2 separate regions of the Homo sapiens genome follow, and region 1 is linked to region 2. Evidence: fine-mapped expression QTL. A gene starts in region 2. The other region holds a variant in brackets. All regions are shown on one strand. Distances are between the middles of the regions.

What was found. PIP is the estimated chance that this variant, and not a neighbour inherited with it, causes the effect.
Region 1: its variant is the best candidate, but not a certain one, in a credible set for the expression of MKX in prefrontal cortex (ROSMAP, PIP 0.64).

What each region holds. Positions count from the first base shown.
Region 1 is chr10:27,672,284-27,676,677 of GRCh38, reverse strand. MKX (mohawk homeobox) reads left to right here. Exons shown (of 7, transcript NM_173576.3): 6 at 1,124-1,157; 7 at 1,263-3,804. The coding sequence ends at 1,449. Among named protein-coding and RNA genes, the nearest start is that of MKX-AS1, 70 kb to the left of the region's middle. The variant T/G (reference allele first, on the strand shown) is at 1,935.
Region 2 is chr10:27,744,227-27,748,620 of GRCh38, reverse strand. It overlaps MKX (mohawk homeobox), which reads left to right and starts at 2,802. Exons shown (of 7, transcript NM_173576.3): 1 at 2,802-2,914. MKX-AS1 (MKX antisense RNA 1) reads right to left here and starts at 4,006. Exons shown (of 2, transcript NR_121652.1): 1 at 3,673-4,006. RefSeq lists an enhancer at 2,721-3,311.

The DNA of each region.
Region 1 (4,394 bases), 72 kb after region 2:
CTGGCCAGGCACGGTGGCTCACGCCTGTAATCCCAGCACTTTAGGAGGCTGAGGCAGGCTGATCACGAGGTCAGGAGTTCGAGATCAGCCTGATCAACATGGTGAAACCCTGTCTCTACTAAAAATACAAAAATTAGCCGGGCTTGGTGGCGGGTGCCTGTAATCCCAGCTACTTAGGAGCCTGAGGCAGAAGAATTGCTTGAACCTGGGAGGTGGAGGTTGCAGTGAGCCGAGATCACAGCACTGCACTCCAGCCTGGGCAACAGAGCAAGCCTCCATCTCAAAAAAAAAAAAAAAGAAAAAGAAAAAAGAAAATTTGATAACCATGAAATTATAGAATCATTGAGCCAGAAGCACCCCCAAGATTTTCTAGAACCCCCCCCTTTTTTATTTTAATTTTCTTAGAGACAGGGTCTTGCTCTGTTGCCCAGGCTGGAGTGCAGTGGCACAATCACTGCTTACTGCACCTTCACCCCCCTGGGCTCAAGCAATCCTCCCACCTCAGCCTCCTGAGTAACTGGGAATATAGGTGAACACCCACCATACCCAGCTATTTTTATTTTTATTTTTAGTAGAGATGAGGTCTCACTATGTAGCGCAGGCTGGTCTCGAATTCCTAGGCTCAAGCAATCCCCCGCCTTGGCCTCCCAAAGTGCTGGGATTACAGATATGAGCCACTGTGCCCAGCCAAAGCTCCCTGATTTTATAGTTAGAGAACTGAATCCCTGACATTGTGGGAGGTCATAATCTGCCCCCAGGTTACACTGCAAGTGGGTAGTAGGGCAAGGCCAGAACCTGGCCCCAGGTACAGTCAGCACTCTTTTCCTTATGCTGTTTGTCTCCTGATCCAAAAGGCCCAATTTCTCAGAGTAAATAACTTCAGATTTTTGTGTATCTATGAGAGCTACCTTTTATTCTTTACTACCCACTGTCATCTTACTTCTGCCCCTTTGCAATTTTTTTTGCATCTTAATATAAACTGCTTTATCTTTATTAAAAGCGAACTAATTTTCAACCATATTTCCTGAAGAACTTTTACTTCTGGTCATTAGTGATGAAACTCCTGAGATGAGAAAAGAAAGGAAAAACATAAAAATAATTGAATTTTTGCTTTTCTTTACAGACACTCTGGAAAACGGATCCAATAAGGGTGAAAGGTGAGCAAAATGTTCCCATTGGCCGTTCCTGCTTTTCAGCGATGGCATTTTCAATGCAAACTGCAGTGAGTTTGATCGTTTACTTTCTGTTTTGCTTAACTCCAGCGCAGCTAACAGAAAAGGACCAAGCAAGGATGACACGTATTGGAAGGAGATCAACGCAGCTATGGCCTTAACAAATCTTGCACAGGGAAAGGACAAACTGCAGGGAACTACCAGCTGCATCATCCAGAAGTCGTCCCATATAGCAGAAGTAAAGACTGTCAAAGTGCCGCTGGTGCAGCAGTTTTAAGAGCTTGTTGCTTTTCAGATCCAATGGATGTTCTTTCCGGTGTTTTCATCAACCCTCATCCTAAGAGCCGAAGCAGGGATGAAAATGACTCTCTCCCAAACCTCTTCTTATTTTTAATTATCCCAAATATATCATTTAGTTGCTTCTATAAAAGACATATAAATTATAAAAAACTCATTTTAATCAAAAATATTAACTTATTTTATGTTACTCAAACTATGCATAAAACATCTGCATTACCATTACAGTAAGTGCCTTGCTTCCCGACAATAAGCTCCAACGTGGGCATAGTTGAACAAGCTATGCCTCAAAATGCCAACGCCATATGCTTATTAGCCTGTGTGCATCATTCCAGACGGGCCTAATCATTCCAGGACTGAAACCAGAATCGCTGAAAGCCCTTGAAATACATTCAATAATTCATATGTTAAAACTTGGATATCTGTTCAGCCCAAATGAAATCTTCCTTTTAAAAAACGTCTACA[T/G]TATTGAAAATTGTTCAATGTGCTTTTCAGAGTGACGGTGAGAATTTTATGCATGTATCTTGCCTGCATATTTGATATGTTACAAACTTCCAAAATTCAAGGTGCAGCGATCCACAGAACGTTGTACATTTAAGAAGTGATTCCTTCAAGCTAATTTAAAATTTCATTGAACACATGGTGACCAGGAAAACTTTTTTTCAAGCACTGTTGGAAAGCACCACAAAGCCCTTTAGAATTAATCTGGATTTGTTTCTCAAGTTCTGCTGAAGTTTAAAAAAAAACTTTATTATACAAATAACTCAAAATTTTCCTGTGTAAAACTAAACCTGTAGTTTTAAAACATAATCCTGTTTGCATTAGAGCTCACTGTCTTTTTGTGATGGAAACTGTGTTCGTATGGAATGACTAAAAATCTTTTATTTGGTTTGTTTCAAATTACAATTGCTGATGGACAATTTGTATTGCAGCGAGAACAACAGAATGAAAGAAATGTATCTCTGTGCGGCTATACATATACATACATAAAATTGATTTTTAAATTTAAAACATATGGAAAACAAAACATTGAACAGTTTGAATTTTGCCAAGTTGGACATTAAAGTAAAAATGAAGTGAAATCATGCATTGAAAGAAAACATTTTGTTTCTAAATTAGTCTACCATTGAGTGAGAATAATCAATATCAAGAAAGAAGACTATCTTTCTCAACTAAACAATAATATTCCAATCAGCTTGGGAAGACCTGAAACTTGAATAAGCAGTGGAAATGCCAAATATAACAGAGGGTATGTGCTACAGAGAAGTAAAAAGGGTTTGACTTTTTATGATGGGATTTTTTTTTTCTGGGTATGTAATCTATTTTTTTTTTAAACTGGAAAGCATTTTTGTCAGTGTGAATGAGGGTCAATAGTGCAGCCAGTGGTGACATTTTTCTTTATTTTGCAAAATGCTTTTAAAACCAAAGGCTGCTCTAGTTGATGGACAGTATCAGTCTTGATCTAAATTGTAGGACACTTTTTCATGTAACATAACATTTGGGGATTGGGTTTATTTAGTGTAATGAAGATAATTTGATATAAAAATATTTTGTGTATATATATATATTTTTACTTTGTTTTCTAAATTGCTGTTTGCAGTAACAGTAAGCGCAAAGCAAAATATATAAGTTATGACTGTATGATCAGATGAAGTATGAGTTCTTTTGGTTTGCATCCTTAAATAGTTAGAGATCTCTGATAAAAACTTTGGAATCTTTGCAAAACAATACAAAAATGCCAAAATGTGAGCATGTCAATGAAAACTAAAGACAAATACTTCACTCTTTTTCATACTATTATAAGTTATTCTGGTATTAAATATGTTAATAAAAGTGTTTTTGTTTTGACATATTTCAGTTAAATGAATGAATGCTGGTTGTATTTTATTTGAATGAGTCATGATTCATGTTTGCCATCTTTTTAAAAAAATCAGCAAATTTCTTCTATGTTATAAATTATAGATGACAAGGCAATATAGGACAACTATTCACATGATTTTTTTTAATACCAAAGGTTGGAAGATTTTATAATTAACATGTCAAGAAGACTTTATAGTAAGCACATCCTTGGTAATATCTCCAATTGCAATGACTTTTTAATTTATTTTTTCTTTTGCTGCTTTAACATTTTCTGGATATTAAAATCCCCCCAGTCCTTTAAAAGAATCTTGAACAATGCTGAGCCGGCAGCTGAAAATCTAACTCATAATTTATGTTGTAGAGAAATAGAATTACCTCTATTCTTTGTTTTGCCATATGTAATCATTTTAATAAAATTAATAACTGCCAGGAGTTCTTGACAGATTTAAAATAAAAGTTAATTTCTAGACCTCGATGATCGTATGGATTTTGTTTTCCTTTGAGAGCTGACCAGGTAGATGAAGCAGTAGAACAGACGGGCCCATTATATTCAGCAATTCTCCTTAGACTGTTAAGGGATATGATATGGGAGTGCTGCATTTGTATTAGGTTTGAATTTCATCACCTTAGGCCACCAATCCAGCTTTCAAAGACTGAGGAAAAGGGAGTGTGATGCCGACTATTAAAATACCTAACTTTAAAATGAACATTTTCAGGTAATACCTTCTTTCCCTCACTAATACAATTAGCATTATTTGTGGTGTGCTCTGCACTGGAGAGAAAACCTTGGCTTTGAAGCTAGACAGAACTACCTTTGAATCTCAGCTCTGTCCCTTACTACTTAGTCATTCTTATCTAGTTTCTTCATCTGCAAAGTGGGAGTAAGGAGCTATACCTTGTAGGGTTTGCACTAAGATTGAGATAAAATGCAATACATAAAGTGCCTACCTCAGTGTCTGTCAGATAATAGGTGCTTGGTAACTGGAACATATTATTGCATAGTTACAATTCCTCTATTCAGGCTTTATGCACAAGAAAGTAGAAATATTTAAAATAAATGGAACA
Region 2 (4,394 bases):
ACACTCATTATTTTCAAACATTTTGACTAATATTTATTCTGAAATGTCAGGGTAATTTGGTAAAATATCAAAATGCTAAAACTGAAGACTTATTTTTTTCTTTACCAGAAAGTAATAATTACATATATTTATAACTGCAGAGTCCAATACAATGAATTAATATTTCTTTCAAATGTTCTTACTTAACATCTTTCTAGCTTTAGCAAAGCAGTATCTTACTTTCACATTAAAAAAAAGAAACCCTTCATAATAGTGTAAGGCAGTTTGTGGAAAACTTATTACCGTCATTTTACACTTTACTAAATTCAGGCTAAACCATCATCAAATTAACCAGAATTAAGATTAGGGCTCAAGTCTTCTGACTTCTGGTCTAAGTTGTTGGGTGTTTTGGGTTTTTTTTCCCCCTGCATAAGGCCATCTTCCACAAACTACATATGCTTTCTTAAATCTTCTAAAACTTTCTGAAACTGGAAGCTTTACTTCTGAGGATTATATATAGCATTTCATATACTGACATTGGATATAGCACAAGAGGCTGAGTAACATTTATTTTAGAAATAGGTGTAATTTAATAATGAATGTATTTGAAGTGTGGATTAAAATGAAGACAACACTTCCCTTTTGCATAGAGGATAAAACTTGCAAAAATAAAATAAATGCCCATTGGTATATTACAGAGGGATATTTCACACCATTTCACTTCTAGAATGGATCCTTCACTCTTCTTTCATTTTTAAATGGATTTTAATTATTAAATCATAGTCTAAGGGAATTACCATATGTTAATTTTTTAGTGAGTTGAGGCTTACTCAAATGTATTTTATTCCTATATCAAATGAAAAGTATTTTTGCATTAAGATTTTTGCTGTATATTTCATTTCAGACTTTAAGAAAACAAATATTACATGTAAGTATATCTTAAAAGCGCTCTAAATGCATTTTTAAATTGAGTAAATATAGTTAAGTACTAAAACAACAAAATTCATTTGTCCTATACTAACATGTACTATAGCATATAGCTCAAAAAGTTAGTAGAATACTGGGAAATTGCAAGTAACTGTATGATGCCTATTGCTTTACCTGGGACAGCTGACCAAAAAATGTTTCAGGGGTATGTTAGAGCTAATTTCATTACAATTCCCGGTGACTAACACCACTGATAGAGACCATAAAAGAGAAGGTGGCTCTTTTGTCCTATGAATTATCAATTAGATCTGCTTCTGTGGTGAAATTTGTTAGCTGAAAATTGATGGCTGAAACCTTAGGATTTACCCCTGTCTTTAAGCTCCTACAGCGAGGTCTGTAGACCAGAAGCCTGTACTGAACTCACACCACAAGGGCAGCGCCAAAGACAAGATGCAAGCGCTGCAACAGCAAGTTATATAACAAAAGAGAACCGAGGACATCAGAACGTGCTCCAATGATACTTTGTATCTTCCTGGTGCGCAAAAATGTAAACCGGCCTTCCTTTATGGTTTACATTGTACCCCTGCACAACGGTTTGCTATCGCGTAATTTGGGAGGTGACACATATGAAATTTGAGGGTGTGATTAGTCTTTAAAATAATAGTTTTGGTATATATTTTAAGCACTTCTAGCGACCCCCCCAACACACAAACACACACACACACACGCGCACACACACACACACACACGAAGAAGATGCTAAGGTGGGCCACTGCCCCGGCTCTGGCCAGCCGCATTTAGAGGGGAAAAGGACAAATGGCGCTATTTCTTTAAGCTTGGTGGGGGGAAATCTAAGTTTGTTCTTTAAAAAGGGCGAAAGTTCGCTAGGACCACAGGGCCTTCGGCGAGAGCGCAGGCAGCTTCGTGTTGGCACCTTGGGGATCTTCTGGGCTGCCAGAAGCTCTGAGCTTGCAGTTGCACCTAAACCGCCGCTTTCGCTACTTATATTTGCGGTAATGTTAGGAAGCAAAGTATCATCAATCAGAGAATCTGGTAGCCATTCTCTCTCTTTGCCCTGTGTCCCAGCTTGTGATTCTTCTAAGTTCCATCTCCTTTGCTGCGTGCAGATCCTTGGCTTTGGGCGCGCTTCCTCTTCTGCACTTGGGCCACCGCGGGTTGGCCACCTGGGCTGAACTCATCCCATCCTTGCTTTCCCCCATCCCTATACCCAGCGGCGAGGGCAGCCTCACCAGCCCTTGCCCCGGAGGTGAATGTGTGCCTGGCTTTGACTGAGACAACTAGGACCCCAGAAGCCCAGTGACATCAGAAAAGAGGCTCCTGGGCACTAGCACTTCCCGCAATACGCTCCAGGGCTGTAGGTGCAAAACGGAGCTCTAACTTCCCTCCAGCTAATCGAGAGGAAAATACAGGGCGCGTCACAGTGGCCTCTCCCGCCTAGCCACGCGCAGTGAAATTTCCGGCAATCGGGCCAGCTAAGACACGGGATTTGCACCGCAGCCTCTCAGCTTCTGGAGCCGGAGCCGAGCGCTCCCGGCAGCTTCTCCAATTTCTCTCCTAAAGTGCGAAGGGAAAAGCCCCGTCTGCTCCACGACTGCAAGGCCGGCGGATCTGGGAGCCGCGCCCGGCTCCGGAGGACTCGGCGGGCCCGGGGCTCCCCGGCAGCGGCTCCTCTGCTAGGGGTTAACAGCAGCCCCCGCGGCCGGGCGGGCGCGGACGCTTCCTCTCCACCCGCCCGGGAACGTGGATACCGCGCCCGCAGGATGTTCGCCGGCTGGGACCGGCAGTCAGGAAACATGAGAAGGCCTCGCTATTCCTGTTCCCGGGCGGCGCGCGCCGGGCTGGGTAAATAAAGCCGAGACGACGGCGGTGGCGGTGGTGAGCGCGCTGGAGCCCGCGTGGAGAACATGCGGCGGGGATGGGAGTGCGCCTAGTCTCGAGGCGGGAGAGCCAGCCGCCCTGCAGCCGGCCGTCGGCCCCGCAGCCACAGGTACAGCCCCCGCGTCGCCGAGTCTCAGCCGGCTGCGGCGGAACGCCAGGCTCGCTCTGGCCCCTGCGCCCTGGGCGCCGGTGCTCTCCCGCCCTTCCCCCAACTTCCCTCCAAGGTCTGGTGGAGAGGCGCTCGGGTAGCGGCCAAGGCTGGCCCAAGGGTCTGCGCGGAGCTTGGGAGCCCACCTGGCCGCGCCTCCTTTGCTTTAAAATTATTCGCCGGCGTTGGGGGAGGGGGACACTTCTGCAGGGAGTGACCTCCCCGGCCACAGTCTGGAGTGAATCGGGGTAAGTGATTTGAGAAGAGGCGCGGGTGGCCGCGCGCGGGAGTCCTGGGAGGGTCAGCAAGTGTGGTTCACACGCCCCCGGACCCCTTGCGACAGGACAGCGCTCGGACCTTTGCCATCGCTTGCCTCTGAGCCTGCTGCCTGCAGACCTACAGCGCGCCGGGTGTCTGTGTCTGCGATCTCTGCGTGGGCTTGGGGCTGCCGGGGAAGTGTCCGAGGTGGCTAACCTCGTGATGACTTCGCTAGGAAAAACACGTCGTCGCATCTAGGAGGACGCGCTGGGGTGGCTCGGAGAAGGCCGGGCCGGGGAAGGGTGTCTTGTACAAATAAAGCAGCATGAACACACATCCCTAAGGGCATGATTTTAAAAGAAAACACCAACGCGAGTCTTGACTGTAGAACAGGGGCTGCAAGCACGAAAATTCTCTTTGACACTTATCACCGAGGCTATGTGCACACCCCAGGCACGTACCTGTCTGCGCGGGAGGACGCAGTCCTAGGGGACACACGACATCCAGCAGAGGTCTGACTTCACTTCCCTACGAACACAGACCGTAGCCGTCGTTTGATCGCGGTGGTCACGCGTGGTCCTAAATGTCACGCGTGGCCTCTGCTGCGGTGGCCGAAGGGCGGGGCGGGGGCGTTGGCGAGTGTGGGCGCTTGGCGAGGCAAAGGGTGTGTGTGTGTGTGTGTGTGTGTGTGTGTGTGTATGCGCGCGCGCGTGTGTTAGTGGAGTAGCAGCCCATGCCGCGGCTGGACGGGCAAAGGGGGCGCTGGCAGCGAAGCTGAGGCCGCTCGGAGGAAACGGGAGCTGTCCCGAGGCGCGAGGCGAGGAGATGGGGCGGGCGAAGTCCGCCGCGCGCCTTGGGGCTGTAACTCTGCGGCTCCGCGGCCGCGCGGACTTGCTCCTGACGCCGGTGCGCGGCAGGCAGAGGCTCAGGGCCTCCGCGACCCCAGAGGTGAGCTGCTGGCTCTCCCCGACAGTGGCAGCAGTGGCCCGGGAGGTGCGCCGACCAAGCTGCCTCCTGCCTTGGGCTTCTGACACCTTTACAGCCTCTGAAAGGGTCCCCGGAGACCCCAGAGAGAGGCGGGTGTCGAGGGGCTACGAGCTCGCGGCTGACACCCGCGCTGCGGAAGAGAATGGCACTGATTGAGGGCTCTGGGGACCTGGGTCCTGGCGCCTTGGACCTTAGG